Homo sapiens: one gene and its partner. The protein of the gene in region 1 purifies or fractionates together with the protein of each later gene. This does not show direct contact. Each region holds a gene or a part of one and is shown in the gene's direction. Other genes may lie near its edges.

Region 1 (3,747 bases):
GAGCAGCTAGGATTACAGGCATCCACCACCACGTCCAGCTAATTTTTGTATTTTTGGTAGAGACAGGGTTTCACCATGTTGGCCAGGCTGGTCTTGAACTCCTGACCTCAGGTGATCCACCCCCTCGGCCTCCCAATGTGCTGGGATTACAGGCGTGAGCCACTGTGCCCGGCCATAGCTTCTTAAAAGGATACGTTAAGGACCTTAAAAGGATATGGCCTCTTAAAAGGATATGTTTACACACCCTTGTAGCAAATAAGAAGCCATGTGAGGTTTTGAGCAAGAGAAAGATGGTTATTAGGAAAGCTAATCTGGCTCTGGTAGGAAGGATATACAGAGGAGACACCGAATCCAGGGCATCAGTGAGGAAGCTGTTGCTGTCCTCCAGGTTTAGAGCAGTGGCGGTGGGACTGGAATAGATGTGCCCAAGAGACATTCAGTGGAAACGAACCAAGATTTTCCAACCCCATGTCAAAAAGTGGGAAATAGAGAAGTCAAAAATGACTCTCAAGTAGTTTGTATGACCATTGTCAGAGAGGAGAATGATAGAATACTTGTCAGCAATTTGAAATGTCTTCTGCCAGTTGCCACATGTTACCCTGCAATGAGAAAAGCCACTTTCCTGAGAATGGATACTACCCAGTGGCCTCCTCATCTGGACACCACGAAGCTTCTCACTGGTGTTGTAAGTGGAAACCAGAGTAGCTGCCTATCTCCTTGATTATATTTTTTCTTAAAAATGTATAACTATCAGAACACAGAACAAACAGCTCCTAACCGCTTTGGTGTAGTGATCACACAATTTAGAATAAGACTTAGAAGACTTTCCTTTTTTTTTTTTTTCCAGAGACAGGGCCTCCTTCTGTTGCCCAGGCTGCAGTGCAGTGACATGATCATAGCTCACTGTAACCTCGAAGTCCTGAACTCAAGCAATCCTCCCACCTCAGCCTCCCAAGTGGCTAAAACTATAGGCATGCACCACCACACCAGTTCATTTTTTAAATTTTTTGTAGAGTTGGGGCTGTATTTCCCAGGCTGTTTTGAACTCCTGGCCTCAAGTGGTCCTCCCCACTGGGCCTACCAAAGTGCTAGGATTATAGGTGTGAGCCACCACACCCAGCCTCATTCATCTTTTATGGTTTGCTGTCTCTGTTCAATCAAAACCCAGCCTCCTCCCATCTCTGTGCTGACAGACCTGGAAGGAGAGGAGTATGGGGTATACAGCAGAGTAGAAAATGTCTCCAGGTGATTCTAGAGCAATCCATTGTCTCCTCCCAGCCCAAACACATGTGTACTGAGCACGGCGCACATCACTTATTAACTTACTCTGCACCTCCCTAGTAACAAGTCCATTGGTGAGACTTACACAGAGCCAAGGCAGGTGACTTGGCTTTGTGCCAGGATACCAAAATTTAAAGGGTGCAAGAAAGTATTAATACTGGTTTTAAAAGATTATGTGACTGTAAATTTTGTTAGATTTACACATTGACAGCCCAGCATTCCTTCAACTGTCTAGAAACAACTGAGCTTAGCACCTAGTTAACAAGAATAATTAGTTAAAACGGGAAGCTAGCAGATGGTGTACATTGTTAGTAACACCCCTCTGTGTGCCAAATCCGGAGCACAAAGTTGACCGAGGGCCCGTGTACTGCAACTTGCCCAAGGCATCAAAATTGCCAGTTCCGGGCAAACGGAAAGTCTGGTTTCAGGGTGGCTTTGTACTGAAAACCCTTGTTGGCAGATTCTGCTTGGCCATTCATTACTCTAGCACAGGCCTCACTATCTACTTATAACTTATTAAGGAGGTGAGATGTTGCCTTTCTTCGCCTTCTCAATTTAAATTTCAGTTTCTGCCTTGAATCTTTCATGCCTCCAGGTCAAAAGAGAGAGACAGAGACAGGGAAAATGACATCATAACCAAATATGGAATTGCTTTAAATTCAGGCTGGTATCTTCTCCCATCACGGCTCTCCTGGGCAACCAGTTTCCTGATGACCCCAACTCACTTTCAGAGGGCTCTTATGAATTAGCTCTGTGCTACAAAGTGGGAGACTGACCTCAGTTCTTCCACCACTAACTAGCTTTGTGCCCTGAAAACATCACTTCACCCCTCCCAAACACAGAATAAGCAGGCCTCCTGTTCTTACCTAGCCCCAGTGTGCCACTACTGAACTATAAGATCTTGAGAAAATTCTCTGAACCTATTTCATCATCTCCACCTTAAGGACACTGGAATAGATGATCTCAAAGGCCCCTCCAGGGTAACTTTCTACAGCTCTATTTAAGCCAGTTTTTCCATTCAGGTAAGTGTGGACAGATTGACTTTGAGATAATGGTAACTTATTCAAGGAGAACTGGACAGTAAGCACTTGGAGAAATGTGGGTGGAACTCAGTGTGAAAGGAAGAGGAGGGGTCTGGAAATAGATTTTGGGGTGAGACTTGAAATCATGAGAATGAAGGAGCTTCCCAAAGGGGAAGTGTAAAGAAAAGAGCGTCAGAGACAGCCTTGGAAGAATAGGAGGTGGGAAGAAAACACTGCAAAAGAAATAGGGCCAACTTCCTGGTGGGTCGCGCCTGTAACACTTTAGGATACTGAGGCAGGTGGATGGCTTGAGCCCAGGAGTTCCAGACCAGCCTGGGCAACATGGCAAGACCCTGTCTCTATAAAAAATACAAAAATTGCCCGGGTGTGGTGGCACGCACTTGTAGTCCCAACTACTTGGGGGGCTGAGCCAAGAGGATGGCTTGAACCCAGTAGGTCAAGGCTGCAGTGAGCTGAGAACATGCCACTGTGCTCCAGTCTGGATGACAGAGCAAGACTCCGTCTAAAAAAGAAAGAAGCCAACCTTAAATGGTTAGCGGCAGATCTTAGGGTAGTTTTCAAAAAAGATGTTTTAAGAAATAGAAGTTATTTTGACGATAGTTCCTAAGTAGGAAGATTTTGTTGTCATTGTTGTTGTTGTTTTTAATATAAAGATAAGGTCTCGCTGCATGGCCCAGGCTTCTCTCAAACTCCTCAGCTCAAGTGAGCCTCCCACCTTGGCCTCCCAAAGTGCCATGATTACAGGCATGAGCCACAGCTCCTTGCCCAGAAGGAAGTTTTTATCAACATGGGTAAATGCACCTCCCTTACTTACTGCAGCCCTGGTCCAGAACTTACCCCTCTCTCTAGGCTGTGAAGCTTCATGGAGGTATCGATATCCTAGTCTCCAATGCTGCTGTCAACCCTTTCTTTGGAAGCATAATGGATGTCACTGAGGAGGTGTGGGACAAGGTGAGAGGGGATTAAAGCAGGGGGGCCGGGGGGGGCGCCTTGGAACACATTCAGCACAAACTCCATCTGCTTTTAGAATGCATTTCTCAAGGGCAGTGTAAATGTGAGGACTCTTTGCCACGTGCCACACACCTGGAGCACACCTTGCAAAGGGCGGGTGGGGGTGGCTCTATCCCTGCCCTTCTCATTCGTTTCTGCTACTCCTAGTTCTCTCTGCTTCTATCTGCTCTTCACTAGCCACAGTCTGCTCCTCTCCCCAGGCTTTTTCCCTGGCATGCTCTTCTGCCTTGTTGATTTCCAACAGAGACGTAGGCAGCTAATATGCCAACAACTACAACACTTAATTTACACACCCACCTGTCCCCTTTTCAGCTGACAAAAAGTAATTATTTTTTACGAGTTGGGAAATATTAAATGCTGCTCCTTATTTAAAATACTAATTCTGGTGAAATGACCAGTTGCCACTTTATAA
Region 2 (3,747 bases), on another chromosome or scaffold:
CAGGAAATCCCCAGGAAGGAGAGTGCAGTCAGCAGTCTCTTTCCTTTCCCAGAAGTGGACCACCTCCTCTTGCCTCTATTCCCCTATTCACTCTGCTTTGTCACCTCCTGTCCCCCGCATATCATATCCGTCAGAATACTTCCTTTCCCCCTCCCTTCCTGCTCAGGTCGGTAATACCTGCCCTGGTGCCTATCACTTCCTGGATCACCCACCCCCTTGTGACTGCCAGACCCACCTCTTGACCCACCACTTGCCTGACCCTGGTTCTAAGCCAACGGGGCTGGGACTAGAGGAGTCGGACAAAGGGTGGGAGACCAGAAGGGGCAGGGGCAAGAGGAGCTATCACCAGAGAACTCTACTGCCCCTTTCCACTCCCCTATTTGAGATGAGGACAAAGGGGGTGACTAAGCAATGAAAGACAAAGGGCTTTAGAGTGGCTGCAGCAGTGTGTGTGGGGGTGTTGGCAGCAGGGAGAAGGCACAAAAGCTGCAGTGTCCTAGGCAGCCCCTCAGGAGCCCCCCACCCCAGTCCCAGCTCAAGCTGCCTCCAGGGCCAAGCAGCCCAAAGTCTATCCTGACTTCTCCCAGGCTGGATCAAGGCAAATAAATGCAGTCCTTCCCATCCCCCACCACCATGGCCACATTTGCTGTGTTTCAACAATAGAAAGAAGGCCCAGGGAAAGAGCAAGGAATGAGGACAACAGAGGGACCAAACCTCTGCCCTGGCTCTGTGGCAGCTGCCTTGTCTAGCCCAGGTCCTGGTCAGTTCCCACAGCTAAGGATCTGGCCCCACCCTTTGGTACAGTTCCCATTAGGTCAATTCCCAGGCCAGAAGTCTGGCTTTCCCCTCTTTCTCTGCAGTGAAGAATTCCACCATCTCTGCTTCCTGGTCTGTCTGCCTCACCCTGCTGCGCTGCTGGTGGGCTGTGTCCCTGGGATCCTGTCTAGGGGATATCTGGGGAAGGCCTCTTTCCAGGCTCAGAGTTGGAGAGTTGTACAAACTCTACGGGTGGGTGGCCCAGCTGGAGTTGGGCTTAGAGGCAGAGGGAGAAAACAGGAACTAGCCTCTAAGGCTGGAAGAATCTTTGTCCATACAGAATTGTGATCAGACTCCTGGTGCTACTACATTTCCGTGCTGTTGGCCATTACCCAGGAGGGCTATAGCAGGGTCAGAAAGACGTTAGGGAAAAGAGGCTGACGCAAGACGGAAGTGGGGTGTGAGGCATCTCTAAGGGCGCTTCCTGGGTCTGTGATTCTGTAGGTTCGGGAAGCCTGGAGGATGTCAGGGTCACCCACAGAGGACCTCCACTCCCCCATCTGGGATGAGGTGGCTCCTACACACCCCGACACTCCCCTCCGCACCACCAATGCCGGCGGCCTTGGCATCCTATTCTTTTTTGTTTTGGTTTGGCGGGAGCTCTCAGACCCGCCCAGCCCCACTTAGGCTCCTTTCTCCAATCTCAATTTATGACATCTGGAAATTAGCTGGCTTTCCCAACTCCTGTCTTTTGGATTCAGTGATGGGAAAGTAATTGGCAAAGCCTGGGGCTACCCTATAAGGGCAGGGCTCAGATACAATCCGAGAGCAGGACTAAAGCATGAGGGCGGCCAAGGCGGAAGGGAGTAGGGAAGGAAGCGCCGCGCGTTTCCAAGATACGCAGGCGGGCTCGGCGAGAGAGCACGAAGTATCTGCCCCACGCAGGAACGGCAATTTTCCCTTGCTCGCTCCTAGAAAAGCCAGCCAGGAGCTGTGGGAGGAAACGCCCTCAGTAAAGATGACCGCGGTCACTGTTATCTAAACGCAAGTGAAGCCGAGTCACAGGACCCGGATGTTGTCAGTTCGACGGTAAACGACCCTGCCAGCTTCCAAGAGGGCGGCTTCACTGTGCGAATAGGTGAGAAGCCAAGAAGGAGGCGCGCTGGAGTTACTTCCGCCCGGTTCTCCTTCCCGCAGTCTGCAGCCGGAGTAAGATGGCGGCGCTGAGGGCTTTGTGCGGCTTCCGGGGCGTCGCGGCCCAGGTGCTGCGGCCTGGGGCTGGAGTCCGATTGCCGATTCAGCCCAGCAGGTGAGATCGAGGGCAGCTCTCGACACACTTTCTCCAAGGCTAGGGTTTCTCAGGTTGGGGACGCTTTACTCCCCCAGAAAATAATAACCCAAGCCTGTGACCCCATTGTCCATCCCTGATTTCTTGGGCTACGGGATGCAGTGGCGCCCACTCTGGCGAGGGAGGGGAGAGGGTCTAGAGTTCGTTCGTGCCGAGGTGAAATCAGCGGAGTGGGAGACTCTGCTTTTTAGCTTCAGTAATTTGAATGCACCTCTCCTGTCATACCTGAGTAGAGCTCAGCCAAAGAGCCAGAATGCTCGCTGTCTCTCTGTCGTTGACCTTGAACAAACACTTTTCTCACGTTCATATTCACCTGGTTGATAATATCAATATGATGAAAATATGAAGAAGCTAGGATCCCAACCTTGCATGCCCAGGGGTGATGGGTGGAGTTATTCCAGGAATAATTTGTTAGTAGGAATGGAACCTCTAGAGTTCCAGCTTGTTTTGCCGAAGCTACATTAACTTCAGATCAGTGACTTGGCATTAAAAAATCCAGGACATTGGCTGGGCGCGGTGGCTCACACCTGTAATCCCAGCACTTTGGGAGGCCTAGGCGGGCAGATCATCTGAGGTCGGGAGTTCGAGACCATCCTGACCAAAATGGAGAAACCCCCGTCTTTAAAAAAATACAAAATTAGCCGGGTTTGGTGGCGCATGCCTGTAATCTCAGCTACTTGGGAGGCTGAAGCAGGAGAATCACTTGAACCCGGGAGGCGGAGGTTTCAGTGAGTCGAAATCACACCATTGCCCTCCAGTATGGGCAACAAGAGTGAAACCCAGTCTCAAAAAAAACAAAAAACAAAACAAAACAAAAAAACAGGTCATCCTTCCTGGGTCCCCTTGAGAGTGAATGGGAACACAGGAACCAAACACTGTTCAGGCCCTTTGTCTAGGATCTGTCTTTGACTCCCCAGAGGTGTTCGGCAGTGGCAGCCAGATGTGGAATGGGCACAGCAGTTTGGGGGAGCTGTTATGTACCCAAGCAAAGAAACAGCCCACTGGAAGCCTCCACCTTGGAATGGTGAGTGACCAGAGTTGCTGTCCCAACCCACACCCATCCCTGCCCCCAGCTGATTTCCTTTTCTTTTTTTGAGACAGGGTTTCCCTCTGTCTCCCTGGCTGGAGTGCAGTGGTGCGAAAGTGGCTCACTGTAGCCTTGAACTTCTGGGCTCAAGGCAACCTTCTGTCTCAGCCTCCCCAGAAAGCCGCAACAACAGGCCTGTGCCACCACAACTGGCTAATTTTGAAAATTTTCCTTTTGTAGAGACAGAGTCTTGCTATGTTGACCAGGCTGGTTTCAAACTCCTGGCCTCAGGTAATCCTCCCAACTCAGCCTCCGAAAGTGCTGAGATACAGGCTTGAGCCACCATGCCTGGCCTCCAGCTGATTTCTAAGTGCTCTTGAGCTCTCTGTCTTAGGCAAATTTTAGCCCCTATCCTGTTTGCTTCTTTCACCACGAAATTCAACAGACATAATAGTGATAACAACAGGTATTTGTGAAGTAGAGAAGGAAAGGAAGGATGTTGCAGAAGAAAATAAAGAATGGGTCCCAGTAAATACCCAAAAGTCCCTACCAATTTAAATATTAATGCCAGCTTTTCCCATGTTCAATATATTTCAGGTTCACTACATTATCTCCC

Evidence for each region. Proteins that work in one complex are often made in the same cells at the same time.
Region 2: the proteins of DHRS4 (region 1) and NDUFS2 purify together in Homo sapiens (affinity purification with mass spectrometry; 2 studies listed by BioGRID and IntAct, with this or other methods). This does not show direct contact.

What each region holds. Positions count from the first base shown.
Region 1 is NC_000014.9:23,956,729-23,960,475, forward strand, and holds part of DHRS4 (dehydrogenase/reductase SDR family member 4), read left to right. Parts: intron 1-3,173; coding exon 3,174-3,275; intron 3,276-3,747. UniProt on the Homo sapiens protein: NADPH-dependent oxidoreductase which catalyzes the reduction of a variety of compounds bearing carbonyl groups including ketosteroids, alpha-dicarbonyl compounds, aldehydes, aromatic ketones and quinones.
Region 2 is NC_000001.11:161,200,416-161,204,162, forward strand, and holds the start of NDUFS2 (NADH dehydrogenase [ubiquinone] iron-sulfur protein 2, mitochondrial isoform 1 precursor), read left to right. Parts: upstream 1-1,951; 5' UTR 1,952-1,970; coding exon 1,971-2,065; intron 2,066-3,021; coding exon 3,022-3,128; intron 3,129-3,747. UniProt on the Homo sapiens protein: Core subunit of the mitochondrial membrane respiratory chain NADH dehydrogenase (Complex I) which catalyzes electron transfer from NADH through the respiratory chain, using ubiquinone as an electron acceptor. Essential for the catalytic activity of complex I.